Homo sapiens: one gene and its partners. Each later gene encodes a partner of the first gene's protein in a complex. Links are inferred from orthologs where the notes say so. Each region holds a gene or a part of one and is shown on either strand. Other genes may lie near its edges.

Region 1 (7,706 bases):
ACTGGAATACTTTCGCAGAAAATTTAGATGTTTACATGACTGTGCTTATCAGCAGAAAAAGCCAAAGAAACAAAACAATATGCTCCACCTCATTTCCACTCTGCAAATCTCAAGTAAGTGCACTTAACTGGGGAGCCTACTTTGGATCCAGTCCATTAATTTCAATGGAGTGTGGGAAACAGTGTTTAGTTTTCCCACCTCCATATCACAGGGAGGTGCATGGGAAGGAGGTGGGAAGTGATGCTCAATTCCAGTCCCCGCATCCACCACACTGCTCTCCAATAAAGATCAGTGCATGTTATTCTCTACTGTGAATCTCAAGTGACCAGAGCAAATCTGGTATAAATTATACTACACTTCCTCCTTTGTTTGTTAACACTTTAAAGGTAAAATCCTGCACATGCAGCCAGGGTGATCTCTTACTATAAGTCACTTATATGTGGAAGAAGAGCCAAAACTCACTGAAAAGTGAGAGAAAGGTATTATGATCTACATTTTAGCATACTTCAGTGCTAATATGCTCAGACACTGACTCAGCGACTATTCACTATATACTGATTAAATTACAATTCTTTCACTATCTTCTATCCCATTTCAAATTATTTTTCTCCCTGTTTTAGTTTCAAATTTAAAATAAGAATCCTCTCCTTTTGTTGTAATGAAAAAGCACTTTACTTTTAATCAACAGCAGAGGGCTGCCTATTTCCAGACTAGTCTGTGAGTTTTAGAAGTGACATAGCTGCAATGCTTTCTTCCTTTAACAAAAGGGGTGTTTGGGGGTGGGGAGGATGGGGGAGTGTGGTTTCAATCCTTCTTTTACTTTTGTGATAGACCAGAAAATAAATGGCAAATGATAGTGGAGAGGGCAACCTCCACAAGAAAAAAAGTGACTTTTATCTTTCCCTCAGTCCGAGGCTGAGACTGTCTTTTTTCCCTCTCTATCCCTGGTGCCTAGCACAATGCATGGTACAGAGCAAACAGTAAATGAATGTCTGTTGAATGAATAATCCAATTACAATGGAAGAAGTGGAAGACTCTTCATCATCATGTCTCTTATCTTCCTATCTCACTCCCTTCCTCAATGTGGACAAAATAGAGCGGGGACAGAAGCAAATTAGAGTCATGGAACTGACAGCCAGAACTCCCAGAATGTGAATGGGATAGGCCACAGTCCATGAAACTTCCTAGAAGTACAAATCCTTCAGCAAGTTCAGGAAATCCACATTTCAAAGGGTGGAGTTTCTGGCCTTTGGCCCCAGTTCCTTACCGACCACCCATTAACTGCCACAATTAGTTTTATTTCAGCTGGGCAGAGGGGTGATGATTGAAAACAGAGAAATTACTAAAGTAGATAATTAAAAACACTGATCATGTACCAAGAGGGAGAAAACAGATGGTGAATGATACCTTTGGCACTATTTTCTTTAAGATCAACTGGCTCTGCTGGAAGGCGGTGAGATGAGAAATCTGCAATTAGCAGGGCCTACCTGTGAATATAGCAGGGAAAGAAAGTCCAAGGTCAGCCTGATTGGGTTGGACACCACCTTGAAGTCAACTGCACTGGGCAGTCTACGTAGCAAGCAGGGAAATCTGACTGATAAGAAAGCGACCACAGGTGAAGTGCTGTATTATCTTCTGATCTCGTCTACAGAATAAAGGTGCCATTAGCTAGAATGATATCTTTAGCTGTAACACATTGACTATTGTTTCTGAGGGACTATGAGCCGCCACCATTTGTCCATCATCACTTTATTTCTCTTCTGGCAGCAATAGCTAGGAAATTAAATTCTAATCGCATCACGTAAGCATTCTCAAAATATCCTGAAATAACTGCATTAACAAATTGCCCACCCTTTATAAACAAAGAACTCTCAAGAGAAGTGTAAAATGTTTGACGACACCAAGGTACTAAGAGAAGGAACTATACAACTTAAATATTACAATACTTAAGCAAGCAGTATAAATTAGGTTGATGGATTTTCAGTTAACTGGGTCTCATCTTGATAAAAGGTACATGTGGCAGCTTAGTCAGCCAACAAGAAAGCAAAAAACTTGATTTTTTTCACTCGGAACCAGTCACTGTTAGACTACATGCAGCCTTTTCATCTCCCACCCATTTGCATTTTTGAGACAATCTCCAAGAACACACAGAAGCCACATATCATTTACGACGGAACAACCTTTCCAAATGGTCGTACAATATTTTTAATAAGCATAGGCATAATCAGCATTAGTTATTTAGCTGAAAAGAAACAGCTTTGCCTTCTTCAAATCCCAGAGCTTAATCTAGTTTTCAAAGGGAACAGATGTGGTAACTTCTTTATAAAGTATTTATACTTTTTTGGCTTCACTTTTTAACATCAACGACGACCGGTGAAATAAAGCATGAACTTCTCACACTAGACACTTGTTGCTAAAGAGGAGGAGGAAAATTTATGTTCCTGCTCTCCCATCCCTGTCTCTAGTTAGGGGATTAAAAAGGATTTCAGATAAAGAAGAAAAAAACAAACCAGCGAATGACAATTCACTTGGAACTCTCCAGACCGAAGTCCGTAAAGTTAAGTCGGCCCGGCCTCCGCCAGAGCAAGCAAATCAACAGCGGGGATGCTGCGACCGTCTCCCAACGCCTGGGAGCTCCGCACACCCGGCGGGGGTGGCAGGAAGGGGCTGGCGCGGTGATGTGGGTCCCCCGCCGACCGCCTAGCCCCCTCCTCAACACTTCCTGAAGGAAACTGACAAGTAAGGCGGCGGCCGCTCCGGGAAGGGGCGGGTGTGGACCCGACAAGCTTGCTCCCTCCAGCGAGCCCCCAGCGCCCGCGCGCCGAGCCGCCCCCACAGTCCCCGCGGCGCCTCGCGCGCTCCCCAGGCTCGCGCCGAGGGAGGAGGGGCTGACAGCAGAGCCTCCGGTCGTGGCCGCCGCCGCTACCTCCCCGGGTCCGGCTGCTGAATAACCCGAAGGGAAGCCCGCCCCGCAGCCCCGCGGTCCCCGCACCTCGTCCTCCAGGAGCCCGAACACCTCCACCGCGCAAGTTGCCATTTCCGAACGCTTCCAGCAAACCGGACGCGCTCGCCCCCGCCCAGGGCAGGCAACTGTGGAGGAGGAGGAGGAGAAGCGGGAGGAGGCGGGGAAGAGTTGGAGGAAGAGGAGGAGGCGCTCCCTCAGCGACAGCAGCGCCTCCCGCGGCGAGCGGGCACTAGCGGCACCCGGCAGCGCGGCGGGAAAAGGCCGGCGGCGCGCGCTCCTGGGGCTGGGCGGGGGCGCGCGTGGCGGGGCTCGGGGAGTGGGGAGGGCGTGCGGCGGGGCTCGGGTGGGATGAGCGCGCGCGGCGGGGACCATGGCGTGGGGAGCGCGCGTGGCGGGGCGCGCCCTCGGTCCCTTCCCGGGAGGTGGGTGGTTGACGGGCCCGCCGGGGAGCCAGGGAGCGCCGGGAAGCGCCGGGAAGCCAAGCTGCAGTGTTCCTCAGCAACAAGTCTCGCTGAGATCCGACCCAGAGTTCGGCCTCTGACTAGACGCCTGGGAATCCGTGAGCTTAATCCCCGCTTAAATCCCAAACGGAAAATCATAGCGCTTTCTTGTCGGTTAAGGGTGTCATTCCCATAAGAAGCTGGACCTGGGGACCGCCAGGGAAAGCCTGAGCGTGGCAGCAAATGGGGAGGCCTGGAGGGATCGCAGCAGTCTTGGACTCGGGATCTGAAATTCTCTCCCTAGGATTTGTAAACAGTGCCAGTTCCTAAGCTATTTGTTGTCCTATGGTCTGTCCATCTTTAAATCCCACCAGTAACAATCCAATCTCCAGGCTGACCCTCTAAACCTGCTTTAGCTGGGCGTTGATCCGCAGCACCACCAGAAGGCAGTGACGAAGAGGGAAAAATAAAGTGAACTAGGACCTCCTGTAGAATAACTCCTCCTGTGGAATAACTCCTCCTGTGGAATAAGGTTATGGAATAATCATGCTTTTTAATATTCCTGTCTGATGGGCTTTATAATTCCATAATTACAGGAAGACCTCCACCAAATAAGGCATCCATAAAAGAGTCTGGGGAGAATTATGAACACCCAGGCCACAATTTATATCATGTTGTTTTTATACATTTGCAGAAATTTGCAGAATTCTGCAATCTCAAAATCTAATTTTTATTTTCCTCAATGATTTCAGAATAACTCTGATTTATTTTTAACAGTTTAAGATGCTACGTGGGAACAAGGCTATAGCCCATATTACTGGTTTGTTACGTAAGATTTTTCTCGTACTTGGCCGGGCGCGGTGGCTCACGCCTGTAATCCCAGCACTTTGGGAAACCTAAGGCGGTGAATCACCTTAGGTCAGGAGTTCGAGCCCAACCTGGCCAACATAGTAAAACCCTGTCTCTACTAAAAACACAAAAATTAGCTGGGCGTGGTGGCGGGCGCCTGGAGTCCCAGCTGCTTGGGTGGCTGAGGCAAGGGAATCGCTTGAGCTTGGGAGGAGGAGGTTACAGTGAGCCAAGATTGCGCCGTTGCACTCCAGCCTGGGCGACAGAACAAGACTCCACCTCAATTGTCGTACTTTATGATTGGTAGGATCCATTTCATTCATATAATATGTATCAAAATTCTGTTAATACACAATTCAGATTTTATCCGTATTAGGGGGAAAGAGATGGCACTTAATCAAACATGACTACAAAATTACAGAATGGTCAGGAATTGTTGGCTTACCTAAATCGAAAAAGCCATGAGAGCATTAATTTGTTTTTTAAGTTGTCACATATCTGTGGGATTTGTGGGTTAAGAATAAAATAATCTGAAAATATTGTGTGCCCTTCTATTTTGCGAATATTTCCCTCATCTCTCATGATACACATTTTTATGTTTAATTTTAAGTTAGTTAAGTCATTTGAATTTAAGTTAATTCAGTGTCATTTCAGGGCACAATTACAAACGTGTAAAAACAGCTTCCGTTACTGCTACTAAAATTTAATGAATATATGAGAAGTATACACAGCCTAAAACTGGTAATTAAAAAAAAAAAAATCAGTAAATCCCCAAGGGATTATAAAGTAAAGCAAATTGGCCATTTGATGTATCCAATAGGTATTAGTGATGATACTTCTAAAGACCACTGATTTGACTCATGATTTCTTATTCTGTCTTTCCGAATATGAAATCATGAAGAATTAAACAGCTACCAATACAAGATGAACTAGAGTAATTATTGTATCCCGGTCAACAGCTAGGAGGGGCACCTGAAATTAAAGGAAGCTCAAATCGGGATGGTGATATCAGCTGGTGGTCCAATAACCAACCACCACTGAGAAAGCTGTTTAGAATGAAGAACTCCTCTACATATCACTCAACTGCGCAGAACTCTCATGAAGGCGTTTTGTCTACCTAGGCTGCCTTCAATTAGGTTCATGTTGATTTGGTTTGAGTGTGTGTATAACCATGTGAGGCACGTGTGAAGAATGTGACATGGTGCATAACAATTGATTCTGTGCCTCATACCTGTGCTAGGGATCATCCCAAGCCAAAATCCAGGCAATTCTAGCAACCTCCAATAGCATCACCCCTTCTATCTCTTGTTCTTGAGTCTTTTCTCCCTTCAAATCTGCCTTTACATGAGCCTCCAAACTGATTAAGAAGCAAGAAATGAATGAAAACCAGTAAACCTGGTCTAGACTTTCTAGTAGTCTGTATACGTAAACCTCTTTAACTCTGCCTATAGATTTCACTGTGATGCAGAAATTGTTTCTAGTTTTTAAAATATCACCCCCTGGGATCAAAATTGGATGTGGAATGTAACAATATGAAAGGTAATGATACGAAATGCACTTTAATGTTGGTAATTAATTCCCTAAGGGATATAAAAAAGTCTTGTTCAGAAGTTCTCCTTTAATTCTCTCTTACTCTTAATATCCCCTGGCTGCTTCCTTTCTAATAGTTAATGTTTGAGATTTTTAAGGTTCATTTTTTCTTCCACTGGAAACTCCCTGGACCTCATCCATTGCCATTGCCATTACCATAGTTTCAGCTACTTTCTTCATAGAGCCCATCTCAGATCCAGAGCTCAGTAGTGCAAGAAATGTTTATTTGATTTTCTGAAATGAACTAAGTTTCTGCCTCCAGTAGTAGAATACATAGTCCCAATCAATTCATTGGTCTTGCCTGACCCTCTTTTTGCTAAGCTGGATTCTGACTTCTAACAGGCTGTTGTGCTCCCTCATCTTGGTGATAAAGGTTCTCATCACTCCCTCCTGGAATTAGTAGATGTATCTGTGTTCCCGCTGGCCTCTAGCTGTGGACATCTTTATCAAGTAGAATTACATTTGGCTGTTACCTAAACTAATAAGATTTAAAGATTCATGTTATATGGCTGTCATGTAAAAGTCTAGACAGTGGGCAGGGCAGGGTTAATATGGCTAGTTTGCTCTGCCAAAGGGTCAGAAATTCAGGCACTTCACAGCTCACTGCTCTGATGTTTGTAGGTGTGACCCTTATCCTCATAGTCCAGAGAGTGGCTCAAGCTTCAATCATTACGTCTATGTTCCAGGTTACAAGGCAGAGGAAGGAGTAAAGAAGAGAGTTCAGGTATCATGGTCATCTTTTAAAATGCCCTCCTCACCCCACAAGGGGTGGGAGGTAGTGAGAAAGACGGCCAGGTGCAAGGCAGTGGGACCCAGGTGTGTTCAAGGAAGGGTTTGCTTGGTGGACTGGTGATGGCAGAAATGGGAAATTAGTTACTTGTAGAGACAAGTGATCCAATAAGTGAATATATGAATGATAATGAGAACCACATTAGTCACTGTTGAAGAAGTTACAAGAATGGAAAGAGAAAACTTGAATGAGTCTTGTGTTGTTATAATGAAATTGGTGGTGTTGATATGAACTCAAAAGTTTTTAACATATATATATAGTATATAAATAAATGTAGATGTAAACCTCTGCTGCATACACACACACACACACACACACACACACACACACACAAATATTTTCTACATTTGTATTCTAAGAGGGCCTGGGAACAATGACACCCCAAAAGCAATGAGCATATCTTGCATCCATATTTTAACTTTTTACTAAAAGAAACCAGGGCTCCTTGGAAAAATGGCTGATTCCAGGACTAGGACAAGGCAAATAAAAGTTGAGCCTGAAACATCTTGTTATCCCAGAAAATAATGAAAGTAATGATGGAGACAGAATAAAAGGACACAGGAACCAACCTGAAAAAAGCTCCCACTGGCCAAAGATGGCCTAACTTGAGCACTAAAATAAATTATGATAGCAACAGATTATAATCCAATGAATAATTCTGGTACCATGTGTTCATTACAGATATAAATTATAATAAATGAGTACATTCAAAGTTCAATGAAAAATGAGATTTTTACAGGGTTCAACATATATTTCCAGAAAGTACTTAGTTACATAGATTAAAAGGCTGAAATATACCACCTTAATCAAATGATCAAAGTGAACATTTGATAAACCAAAATCTTGCAACCCATTGCTTTTCCTCCATAACTTGGATCTAATCATGAGAAAACAAATCCAATTTAAGGAACGTACTACAAAATATCTGCCCTGTAATCTTCAAAAGTGTCAAGGACATAGAAGTCAAGAAAGTTGGAGGAACTGTTCCAGACTGACAGATTAAAGACCCTGTATTATGGTTCCCTAGAGAAACAGAACCAATAGGATGCAGATATATAAAGAGATTTGTTAT
Region 2 (7,000 bases), on another chromosome or scaffold:
TTATTTGAAGAGATGTGTGGGAGCTTATCCGCACACACCAGTTCAACTCTGGAGAGAAAAAGTAATTATCTAGTGTTTATTATTAATGTAATATTCTGTATGGATAATTCAAGTTTTAAAAAATCTCCAGAGCATCTCTTCCATGGGAGATTAATGTATATATTTTTTAAATTCTTAGCATAATTGTCTAAACCTCCATCTAAAGTCACCTTTTAACTATGTATGTACAGATTGTCTTTTACCTATTTTCAAACTGTGGTTAGCTCTTTTTTTTTAATACATCAGTGGCTTATACAATTTCATAAATTTCACATTCCAATTTCCCTATGCTTTTAAAATAATATTTTAAGAAAAATATATGTTTATCGTCAGCTGGGCATGATGGCTCATGCCTGTAATCCTAGCCCTTTGAGAGGCTGAGGTGGGAGGATCGCTTGGGGCCAGGAGTTTAAAACCAGCCTGAGCAACATAGCAAGACCCCACCTCTATAAAAAAAAATTTTAAAAAGAAAATGTATGTTTGTCAATCATTTCTTAGTTGCTGTTTTGCTAAAGAAAAGATGAAAAATTTAAAACCAAATGAGCTATATCTAAAGGTCGTCTAAAGAGTAAGAACCAAACTTTACTGAGCTGTTACTAAGAGCATCACATGCATGAGTTATTTATTAAATTCTCATTGAAAAAAATAGACTATCTTAATCAATACACTTGTGAGGGCCCTAAGGGTGTCTTTATATGATTATAAAATAACAAGGCTATTCACTAAAAATAGTCAATTTGGAGGTGGAAGTAAGAGTAGGGGCAGAGGAAACGCCAAGGACTGATAGAAATATATTAAGTTACATCACAATTGAAGAACATGGCTTTTAGCCTCAGCTTCTGACTTGGGATTTTCTCTCTGGTAGCCCTAAATTGATCTTGAGAAACTTGTTTTGGGGGAGAATTGAGTAGTAGCTGTTGAACTAGGGAGAGGATTGTCTTTTATGGGATGCACCATCCTCTCTTTGGATGGAGTTCCTCACACCTCAATTCCCATCTCATCTCATTAAGTGGATGCTAATGTAAGTTCAGTGATGAGGAGGGGTAAGAGCTGGGGAAGGAAGGCTTGTTGGTGTTTTTATGTTGTCCTCCCCTCTGCCCCCAAAATAAGCAGTTCACAACATCAAATACCTACACAAATGTGCAATTATTTATAAATATATTTTTACATACAGTAAGTTTGATACACTATAGTTAGGCCATCTAGGTATAAATAAGGAAGTAAAGGTTGGGTATTATCTGATGAACTGGGAATCTTTTCCATGGTACTTGAATCTAATCACTTTAGTGCCTGCATAGACTCAGACTGTAAAGATGTTACATTAACCAGGGTTAATATCAACTGCTGCTCTTCCCCTTCAGAGCCCTAGCCTTCCCCGATATTTATCATTCTTGAAATAAACACGATTTTAAACAGGCTATTTCTTCTTGTAATAGTGTCCTTGTCTACAATAAAATTGTGTGGTGCAATCGGAGTTAGAACATCGTAGAACTAGGGGACAACCACACAGTTGTGTTTTTTCCTTTTTTTTTTTGTTTTGTGTTTTAAATCTTAACCTGCAACAACCTAACAGTGAACTGAATGTACAAGCATGATACCTGATGCAGTTCTACAAGAATCCTAACCCTCATTAGGATCTCATTTAACAAATTCAGGAAGCTCTTTGTTAAAAAGCCTTTTTTCTTTTTTCTTTTAAGCCTGTCAAATTTAGCAGTGGGGGTTGCAAAGAGCCTTTTTTCTTAATTTAGCTCTTTTGCCTGCTCAGGAATCATTTGAAGCATGTTGTTTCAACAAACAGTTCTCTGTTTCAGCAATTGTCACTTGAAAATTTAACAGTATGAGAATGAGATGATGACAATAGTTTTTTACTGTGAAGTTTCCTTTTTAATTAATTTGAAACTTTAGAAATTTGAGATATAACTACAATTAAGAGAATCCCAAAGAGACAGAAAAAAACAAACTTTTTTTTTTTTTTTGCACAGTATCTTTCTATTTTTTGTGGAAGCCCCATTTAATTCATTTAACATGTAGCTATACCCCAATTAATTAATTCTTTTCTTTTCTTTTCTTTTTTTGAGACGGAGTTTCACTCTATCACCCGGGTTGGAGTGCAGTGGTGTGATCTCTGCTCACTGCAGCCTCCGCCTCCCGGGTTCAAGCAATTCTCCTGCCTCAGCCTCCAGAGTAGCTGGGATTACAGGCACCCGCCACCACGCCTGGCTACTTTTTTGTTGTTGTTGTTGTTGTTGTTGTTGTTGTTTGTCGTTTTTTTCTTTGAGACGGAGTCTCGCTCTGTCGCCCAGGCTGGAGTGCAGTGGCGCGATCCCGGCTCACTGCAAGCTCCGCCTCCCGGGTTCACGCCATTCTCCTGCCTCAGCCTCCCGAGTAGCTGGGACTACAGGTGCCCGCCACCACGCCCGGCTAATTTTTTTGTATTTTTTTTATTTTTAGTAGAGACGGGGTTTCACTGTGTTAGCCAGGATGGTCTCTATCTCCTAACCTCGTGATCCGCCCGCCTCGGCCTCCCAAAGTGCTGGGACTACAGGCTTAAGCCACCGCACCCGGTCTACTTTTTTGTGTTTTTAGTAGAGATGGGATTTCACTATGTTGGCCAGGCTGATCTCAAACTCTTGACCTCAGATGATCCTCCCACCTCGGCCTCCCAAAGTGCTGGAATTACAGGTGTGAGCCACATCTCTTACTCTTTCAAGCACTGGGGATACAGCAGTGAACAAAGCAAACTCCCTCGTATTGTTCACATTCCAGTTAAGGAAGACAAATAATAAATCCTTCTCATGGAAGGAGGTACATAGTAATCAGGCAAATATTTACTATATCAAGTAGAGAGAAAGTCTATTAAAATAATAATTTTTTAAAAACCAGGGCAAAGGGAATAGGAAATGACAGGACTGGGGAAAGGATGTTGCTATTTCATATTTGGTGGTCAGGAAAGTTGGCTGATGAGGTGAGACCTGCAACAAGTGAGGACGTGAGCTGCGTGGATGGAGCAGAGCTCATCAAACCAAGCTGATTGTTGGTTTGTTTTCTCAAGATTGACTGATTACTCGGAGTATAGGTTGGCAAGTAGGGTGACCAGGCTAATGACATGAAACCTAGCAAACTGATGATGGCTGAGATCAAGCTAAGGGTGGCTGTTTTAAGTGCGGAGGAATAGACAACTGAGTTCACTCAATGACATTTACTGGAGGGGCAGAGGTTATTATAAAAGTGAAAGAAAACATTACAAGGGTTTGCATTTGAGTTTTTGGGCATGAATATTTTTGGGTGTTAGTACATTAGACACACACATGATTTCCCTTTCCTCCCAAAAAATCCATTAAATGATTTTATCGGGAACTTCCATAGACATTTCCTTATGTAGGTTTAGACTCTGATTTTATTCTTTCAGATATTAAAGTCCTTCACCTTCTCTTTTCTTTCAATCATAAAAAGATGCTGGATATCAAATTTCACTTTAGTTTTCAATAATCCTATTTACCTTTATTTAAGTCTCCATTCTCAACTCATTACATTTGTCTCTTCTTGAGAAAAATATTTAAAGTCGATAGTAAAATACTTAATTCTAATAACTATTAGTATATTAATGGCATGGAAAGACTTGACTGCAACTTCGGCACATGCTCTAGCAAAAGGCATAGTCAAATGTAATTTAAAATCAAAGCTTTATTTTTAAGAGATCTCATTTGAATTAAAGCGTTTAAGTTCTTCTGCTCTCAGGGAGCTGCAGATGGAGATGTAAGGAGTGACAAGGGGCTGTGGAGCCAAGGCTGACCTCAATGCCGGGTGCCCAGAGAGCTGCTGCTCCTGGTACTCAGCCCCTTGGATTTTTTAGACTGTTCCTTCTGCTTTCCTGACATTTCTCCCACTCCTAAATATTTTGAACAAGAAAGGGCCAGAAATGTCAAGAATAGTAACAAACACCAAAAAAACCTTACTTCCTAGGCCCCACCTCCAGAAATTCAGATTCATTCAGACTGGTGAAGACCAGGAATGTATGTTTTTAACAAATGCTGCCAAGTGACTGTGATGCAGTTCAGGAAAGGGGCCAGAGGAGCCTCAGGCTGGTCACACTTAGTGCCTGTAGCTTTGGGCATCCATCCAGTCTAGGGGGCCATGAAGAGCAATGGAAATGTAATCTAACATGGTGCATAGACGGCAAAAAGCGTGGTCCAGCTGCTAAGACTCTGCTCTTAACAAGAACTTTGCACAACTCCTCTTAGACAGACCTTGGTCTACATATAAAGCACCAACTCAGTATCCTAGAGGTGAAGGCATGAATATATGTGATATGTCCAGCTGCGTTGGTCTTCTCATGTATCAAATAAGAAATATACCTGTTTCCCCCTGGTGAATAAAAGTGCAGTTTATAGTCTGTAGATCAATGCCAGGGATTCTGTAAACATATAATTATGCCCTTTTATTATAAGAGGGTATTAACTTACCATACAAGACTTGGAAAAATGAAGATATTAAACTAGTTTGGGAAGGTGCAGCAGGGAGGAACAACCAGTTGCCAAAATTTGATTCATGGCAAAGTGAGCAACTACCAAAAAAAAAGGGAACAATTTTTGTTACCTGTTTTTGGGCAGCTGTCACATTAAACATTATTTGATGGTATCTATGATAGTGGAGATCGACAGGTAGCTACATGTTACAGGATACTCGGTGTCCAATTCGATAATTCGTATCTTATTAAGATGAAAGAGTATAACTCATTAATGCAAATGACAACTGCATGGGTGCTTAAAGAAAAGACAACTTTGCAATTAAGTTACTAGAGTATTAAAAAAGAACTAATGAAGAGCTGTCTGATGACTTAGTTCACATACTATGGAACTGTGGAGTGTTTTTGTAGAATCTCAAAATTATATGAAAGTCATGTATCATGAATTTTTTTATAGAATGTAAATAAAGACTATACTTTCAGGGATCATTTCTATAGTTTGTTACTAGAATGTAAATAAACTTAGTGATGAATTACTATAAGCATCTACACAATCATATTTTACTTTGAGTAATGATGAAATCCTAGCTAAAATAACTTCTGTTCTGCCTGGTCATATTTCTAGATATGATAGGTTTGTCTTCAGCTCTATCGTTGCATGAATGTGATGAGATGTATGCAAAGTTTATCTTTTTATACTTGATTGTTTTTGTTATTTTTCCCCTAGCAATTGAAATATGTGAGCAAAAGCAGATGACACTGGCAAAATACTGTAATTTTTTACAAACAGAATTAGGGCCAATTTTACACATCATCACATAGAAACTGTCTATTGATATAGCTCCAAAGATTCTGTTTGTCTGACCCTCATGGACTATACTTCTTCATTTCCAGTCTAGTATTTTCTGCTAAATTGTAGGGTTTTTTTTTCTTTCACATTCTCTCACCATCAAACTGTCCATCACGGCTAAATTACTCCCTCACTTCAAGCCTTTCCTTGGCTATTCAACTGTCTTTGTCAGCCTTTCAAGCCTTTGTTCTTATTTGACTGCTGTTTTAAATTGATGCTGTTTTCATACATCAATTTCACTTCCTAACTTGTCACTTCAGAATCTAAAATGACCCTTCCTAAGTAAAAGGGAAGCTCCCTTTCTTATGACCACTGGGGGAGTGTTATTTCTGTGGCCTTCACACCCACCTCCCACTCTTACTCAGCATTCTTTGGCACTAGTCCCTGGGCTGTCATCAAATGTACCCATGATACCGTGGTACCATCTAGCTGGTGCATAGTTTAGCTTTATGGCTCAGCCATCTCTTCTTTGTTCGGTCCAGGAAATCCCAGGTCAGGTGCCCATTTCATTTTTTCTTGTTCTCTATGGCCAGAAGATGCAGTCATTAGACAGAAATGTAATGTTGCTTACTGAGGAAGAAGACTCCCCTGGATTTCATTTACTTCCTACAAGGAGATACAGCTCAATAGTTCAACACCAGAAGAGAAACTCCTTTATATTCAGATAGTGAACATATTTCTAAGAAGCCTAAATAATCCTACCTTTAGATACTCTATTTAGAATTCATTACTAAGCTCCTGCAAAGTCTTAGCTTTGCTTGTTTTTAATTATTAAACAATCTTTGACTAATTTGTCCTTTTCTAAATCCTCCAATTACTACTATGTGCTGAAAATTAGCCTATATTCCCTATGCCTGCCACATCATGTTACTCACTTCTTCCCAGCTTTCAGCCCTGGCTAAGGTTGTGTATATCAAAGCCTGGAAACATTTCTAGCTTTAGCGCAGCCTTACTGTACTTTTAAAACCAGTGTGAGGCATTGAAAAGACTTGCCCGGGGATTGTGAATCTTCTTCTGGCTCTGTCTATAGCTAAATATTTCCTATACCCTGAGAACCTCTGAGAACCTCAATTTTTATCAGCTAAATGGATAATCGGCAATTAGAAGCATAAATTGAACTAGACAACTTTGGGGATTCTTGTTGGTTTCTACTGACTTACATCTTTTTAGTGAGACGGAGTCTCTCTTTGTCACCCAGGCTGGAGTGCAGTGGCGTGATCTCTGCAAGCTCCGCCTCCCGGGTTCAAGCGATTCTCTTGCCTTAGCCTCCCGAGTAGCTGGGACTACAGGCTCCCACCACCACACCTGGCTAATTTCTTGTATTTTTTGTAGAGACGGGGTTTCACCATGTTAGCCAGGATGGTCTGAATCTCCTGACCTCATGATCCACCCGCCTCCCAAAGTGCTTATAGGCGTGAGTGCATTATAGGCGTGAGCCACCACGCCTGGCCAGATCTTTTTCTTATCCTCAGTAATGGAGAAGGCGTGGACTTTAGATAGCTAGATATTGATAAGAAGTTAAATGGGATGTATAGCCTGAGGGTCCAAAGCCCAGTAAGGGAACTTTAAAGTATATAACAATGAAAGATGAAAACCAATCTTTTCTGGCTGGAGAAAACACCCTGAAGTAGGTTTTGTTTGTTTGT
Region 3 (5,187 bases), on another chromosome or scaffold:
GGCAGGAGGATTGCTTGAACCTGGGAAGTCAAGGCTGAAGTGGGCCGAGATCCTGCCACTACACTGCAGCCTGGGTGACAAAGTGAGACACTCTCTTAAAAAAAAAAAAAACTATGTTATGTTTATGTACTCTTGAAATACTGGTAATTTGAACACAACACAGTGAGAAGGAATTGGTGCCTGAAAGTGAATTATTTTACCTGGTTAAGTTTGCTTCATATTTAAGATTGAAATTTAGAGTCTGGACATGGTGTCTCACGCCTGTAATCCCAGTGCTTTGTGAAGCCAAGTTGGGAGGATCGCTTGAGGCCCGAGTTTGAGATCAGCTTGGGTAACATAGTGAGACCACGACTACAAAAAAATTAGAAAATTAGGTGGGTGTGGTGGTGTGCACCTGTAGTCCTAGCTACTTCGGAGGTTGAGACAGGAGGACTACTTTAGCCTAGGAGTTGGTCAGTAATTTTCTTTAGTACAGACCTAGATACAATTCTTACCCAGAATGGCTTAAAATAGAGTTTAATAGTTTAATTTAATGTGTTTGCATGTATGGTGAGTTACTAATATGATCAAGATTCAAATAAATCTCCAAACAATTATACAAAACAGAAAAAAACAAAACACTTTATTTTCCACAAGGAAGAGCAATAGGAAAAATTAAATCATTTCCCACATATTGTTTTCTTAAAACAGAGCCTACAAGGACATATTCAGCACCAAATAAAAAAGGAAAAAAAGAGAAATTACAAACAGCCATAGAATATAATCTATAAAGCAAACATTTAATATTGCACTTTGTTTTGCTAACATTTTGGATTTTACTTTTCCTAATTGAAAAATCAGGAATCTATCTTGAATACTGGAATACAACTGTGAACCTCACATCTTATGTCAGGAATTGACCAATATTTTTAAAAAAGTAATGCCTCTAAAGAAATACATTTTAAAGGGGAAAATAAAACTTTATTTGATAAAGTTTTATACATTTAAAGTTTTATCACATTTTGTGATCCAGTGCCAATTATCAGAATATTGGTCATTCTTGCTTCATGTGTTATTTGTAAGAGTATATAATGACAAGTATTCCAATGCTATGCATATCAACAATTGTTCCCTAGTCAGTTAGACGTAAGAGAGAAAAGGGATTTTCTGACAATCCCCCTCAAACAAAAATAAAACCACCAAATGCCCTTTATGCCAAATATTCCATTAGCTTTTTTTGAGGGGGACATTCACAAAATGATTCAACAATAAAAAAATATTTCACCCCCATTTCCTTATTATCTAGTATTAGTTTGCTACGGGAGCCCAAACTCTTTAACCGAATCACTTAAAACGCGATTCATTTTTACACTGGGCTTTCTTCACCCTGTCAGCATTTGTCAAACATGAATTGTCTTCCATGTTTTCTTAAAGGCCACTTATGGAAAAGCCTATTTGTTTTGTATGAGCTTTAAGACAGTATTTAACCAGGTCAAGCACCAAGCCAGAGCTACTATTATTTTCAGCCACTTTATTAACTGTGGGGTTAAATGGCAGGATAGATGTAACACCCATTTTACACGTATGTTGCAACATCAGAGATGCTGGTTTTCTTTAAAAACATCAGAGCTGAATTCCTTCTAAAATACAACAACAACAACAACAACAAAATAAGTACACTTGGTACCTTGGAAAATGCTGAAATGCTATCATGAATGCTGGTATATTTGTTATGAGCCAACAGAAAATTACCTTTAATATAAACTATAACTTACTGATGTGATTGTTCTTCCTATGTAATCTATACATAATCAAAGTGAGTGATTTCTCATGTTTAGCAAATTGTTCTTTAGGTAATGAAAAACAGTATTCTCATTAGAAAAACACAAAAATCCAAAAGATTTATCGCAGCAAACGTTCTAGTATTTTAAATTTTGAAGTTACTTTTGGAATAAAGTCGAGTTTTCATGCCATACCAAGCTTGAGCAAGACAGCAAAGGTACAAATTGAGCTCTCTATTCATAACCTCAATGTATGTATTCCTGCTCATTAATATACTTTGCACCAGCAAAAGCGATTTCCAACATATGTGTTTTGGAGGTAATTAAGTAACTCTGTATAAAAATAAATGCACTTTTCCCTCCTTTCCCCAGTGAATGGAAAACTTCCATACTTTCAAAATAATAATAAAAAAAATAATTTTTAAGAGCAACAGCCCTCAACTCTTTGCTGGTGCCTGCCATACTGCCTTTCTTCACTCCATTCTTAGCTCTGCTAGTTTCTTCTTGTATGTCATGATAAAAAGGGAATGTGGGTGTGTAACTTTTGTGTATGTCCCGTTTCCAAATTTCCCTCTCCAAAAAGCCAACCAAATAAACAAACAAACAAACGAAAAAAACAGTGCAACAAAACACAAATAGCATTCCAACAGTTTGGCAAGTGATGCGTTCACCTGAGATTAAGTGATTTTAGGCAGTCAGTAACAAAATGCTGCTTTGCTGTAATAGTAGAAAGGCAACAAATTCTTAAAAGAAACCAAGAAGGTATACAATCTTGACAGTCTCTTATTAGCTTCCTCCTCTTATCTCTTTTTTTCCCACATTATCTGTTGCGTATCTACTACAGTAGGCTGCAAAACATACAGCAAAAAGGATTGGCTTGAAGGCATTTGATGTTTGTAAATAAATCCACAATTGGATCCAAGCTGAAGAGGTGATACATAGTCAGCCTAGTAGACAATTCTGAGCATGTGCATACGCAGGTAAAGTCCAGGCTATATTAAATAAAAAAAAATGTCAGTGCGTTTTTTCATGTTAAAGTTTTTTCAAAGCTTTGTTTTGTTCCTTGTTGTGCTGACCACAAACAAGTTTTAAGAGTATCAAGAGTCTGGCAAAAATAGAAAAAAAAAAAAAAAAAAAAAGAAGCTGTAGTGACGTCGAACCGCACAATGTAAGCATTGAGCATGTGCAAATTTTCAAATCAAAAGAAGGAAATCATCCCTCTTTACAACGTGATGTCTTGACACGTACGACCATAGGCTAAGAAGACTGCTCTGAGTATGTGCCAGTTTTAAAAGAGAAAAGCTTAGATCTTCAAGCATGTTGGAGCAGTCTCAGAATGTTGCTGTAGGCTTCTAAAGCATGATCACTGGTTGTTTCATGTATTCGCCATTTTTCTGGGCAAAAGTAATTCCACTTCCTCTGAAACGTGTCTCCAAGATACTTCTCTGTCCTCAGCCGGAAGAGATACAGTTCGGAACCCACATCAACTTGATTCAACCAAGTGTTCCTTCAACGAGAGGGGCAGGATGGTCTATCATCTGCTGACTGATCAGGATTTGGATCAATCTAGAAAGAAATGAGAAAAAAAGTTTACAGAGTTATTTCATGAGGTCTAGGAAGAATGTAGCAAATGACTACAATTCTGAATACTAGTCAAGAAATGTAATCAGAGAGCAAACACAGCTTGTTAGCATATTATATCCAATTATTCTCTTTTCATACGTGAAATGCTATGTGGGGAGGAAAGGGTGTTGGTACCTACAGTACCTGATATTTAATTACTAGATTAACAAGCTTTATAAAGGCATGTCTGAATAGTCCCCTATTTCACAAAAATTAACAGTAAAATTTTATCAGTGAATGAAGACTTTTACTCAGTACTTTAGTAGTACTTAATTAAGACCTAAATACACAACGTAGAATATCTTCATAGCAATCATCTTCTTTTGTAAAGCACCCCTTTCATCCTTCTACAAAAAAGTTAACTCATCGCTTCCTCTGACTTTGGAAAAATGAAATCGTATAAACAATGCTCTTTGTTTATACAATGTGCAAACAATTTGTTTACTCACATGAACAATGTGCTTATGTGAGGTAATAACTCATGGGTGTAAAATCCCACAGAGGGCCAAAAACGCAGTGTATCAGGAAATAAAACTGCTGAACCCAAAACACTCAAGAGGTTTCCTCCCACCTTCTTTATCTTCAGAGTGACTTTTATATGCACATATTTTTAATGAAAAGTTGCTTCTCAAGTACAAAGAGAATGGTCATAGAAAAGCAAATTGTTGGGTTTAATATATTTTTTACTGAAAGAGCTTTTGGACGAGACCCCATCCACTTGCATCTAAATGTGGAACAACCCAAATTGCCTCAGAAGCTTTAGGTAAAACACATTTTTGAAGGAAAAAAGCCAAATAACTTTTAGTTAAATCACACCCTGAACATATTTTAGGGTTTTAAAAGTTGTAAATTATCTTTAGTGCTTTTTAAAAGGAGGCAGAATTTTCCCACAAATTGCTTAAAAGTGAACTATACTTAGATTGTCATTCTTTTTAAAATGCCTCCTTGGACAGCCAGGAAGCCTCAAATCAAGCCAGAAATGACTGACTTAATAAGCAAGACAGAAATGTCCAAGTAAAAATGTAATGACAAAATCTGTAACAAGTGGCAGAACACTTTTAGCATCTAATAGAAATTGTATGTATTAGAAAATAAATAGAAAAAATTATGTCTCATCAATAATTCTGAATATTCTATAATCAATGAATGAAGAAGATCTCATATCATCACAACCAAAGGAAAACTGACCCTTCCAGTTATGGTGTTAATAAAAAAAAAGAGAAATATGATGAACAATCCCCTAATGTTTAATTTGGGAGTAATATTTCAGAGTAAAACAGCTATGTAAATTACAGTAACCAAAAGAAAAAGCTGATTCTAGTAATTTACAGAATTATTTTGGTATCAAAACCAACTCCAAAACCCCTTAAAAATGTGTACTAGTGGCTAAAGTCACTCTGAAATATCCTGAAATTACTGGACACCCCACCTACTCACTCCTTGTCTTTACATACACTGTTCTTCCTGCCTTTTGAGGACTACTCATTCTTCAAAATTCAGCTTAATAGTCACCTTTTCAAGAAGCCCCACCTGATGCCCAAGACCTAATAAGCTGCTTCTCAAATGAGCTGTGCATTTTATCACATTATTACATAATATTTTGCTTCTTAGCTTGTTTTCCTCAGTAATCTGTGGGTTTCTCCTAAGGGCCATGTTTTATTTACATTTAAGTGCTTAGCTGCCATCAATATGAGATGAACGAAAATAGTCTAACCATGTGGGAATGTTGTTTTAAGATGTTATCACAAATACATTATTTCTTATGACTGAGAATGTCAAAATATGCAATTGGAAAAGCATCATG

The links. Proteins that work in one complex are often made in the same cells at the same time.
Region 2: the proteins of NEDD4 (region 1) and GJA1 are in contact, whole or in part, in an NMR structure (PDB 2N8T), measured with the Rattus norvegicus proteins. The link is inferred for Homo sapiens from one-to-one orthologs. Residues at the interface, in NP_037118.1 of Rattus norvegicus: Asp416, Asp417, Tyr422, Val424, Asp425, His426, Ser428, Lys429, Thr430, Thr431, Thr432, Trp433; in NP_036699.1 of Rattus norvegicus: Pro277, Leu278, Ser279, Pro280, Met281, Ser282, Pro283, Pro284, Gly285, Tyr286.
Region 3: the proteins of NEDD4 (region 1) and ARRDC3 are in contact, whole or in part, in a crystal structure (PDB 4N7H), measured with the Homo sapiens proteins. Residues at the interface, in NP_001271267.1 of Homo sapiens: Glu847, Arg849, Ala851, Pro852, Phe857, Ile859, Asp860, His861, Lys864, Thr865, Thr866, Thr867, Trp868; in NP_065852.1 of Homo sapiens: Glu344, Ala345, Pro346, Pro347, Ser348, Tyr349, Val352.

The regions. Positions count from the first base shown.
Region 1 is NC_000015.10:55,990,519-55,998,224, forward strand, and holds the start of NEDD4 (E3 ubiquitin-protein ligase NEDD4), read right to left. Parts: upstream 3,095-7,706; 5' UTR 3,038-3,094; coding exon 2,993-3,037; intron 1,488-2,992; exon of another isoform or gene 1,408-1,487; intron 1-1,407. UniProt on the Homo sapiens protein: E3 ubiquitin-protein ligase which accepts ubiquitin from an E2 ubiquitin-conjugating enzyme in the form of a thioester and then directly transfers the ubiquitin to targeted substrates. Specifically ubiquitinates 'Lys-63' in target proteins.
Region 2 is NC_000006.12:121,438,646-121,445,645, forward strand, and holds part of GJA1 (gap junction alpha-1 protein), read left to right. Parts: intron 1-4,971; exon of another isoform or gene 4,972-5,048; intron 5,049-7,000. UniProt on the Homo sapiens protein: Gap junction protein that acts as a regulator of bladder capacity. A gap junction consists of a cluster of closely packed pairs of transmembrane channels, the connexons, through which materials of low MW diffuse from one cell to a neighboring cell.
Region 3 is NC_000005.10:91,368,131-91,373,317, forward strand, and holds the end of ARRDC3 (arrestin domain-containing protein 3), read right to left. Parts: intron 3,327-5,187; coding exon 3,270-3,326; 3' UTR 501-3,269; downstream 1-500. UniProt on the Homo sapiens protein: Adapter protein that plays a role in regulating cell-surface expression of adrenergic receptors and probably also other G protein-coupled receptors.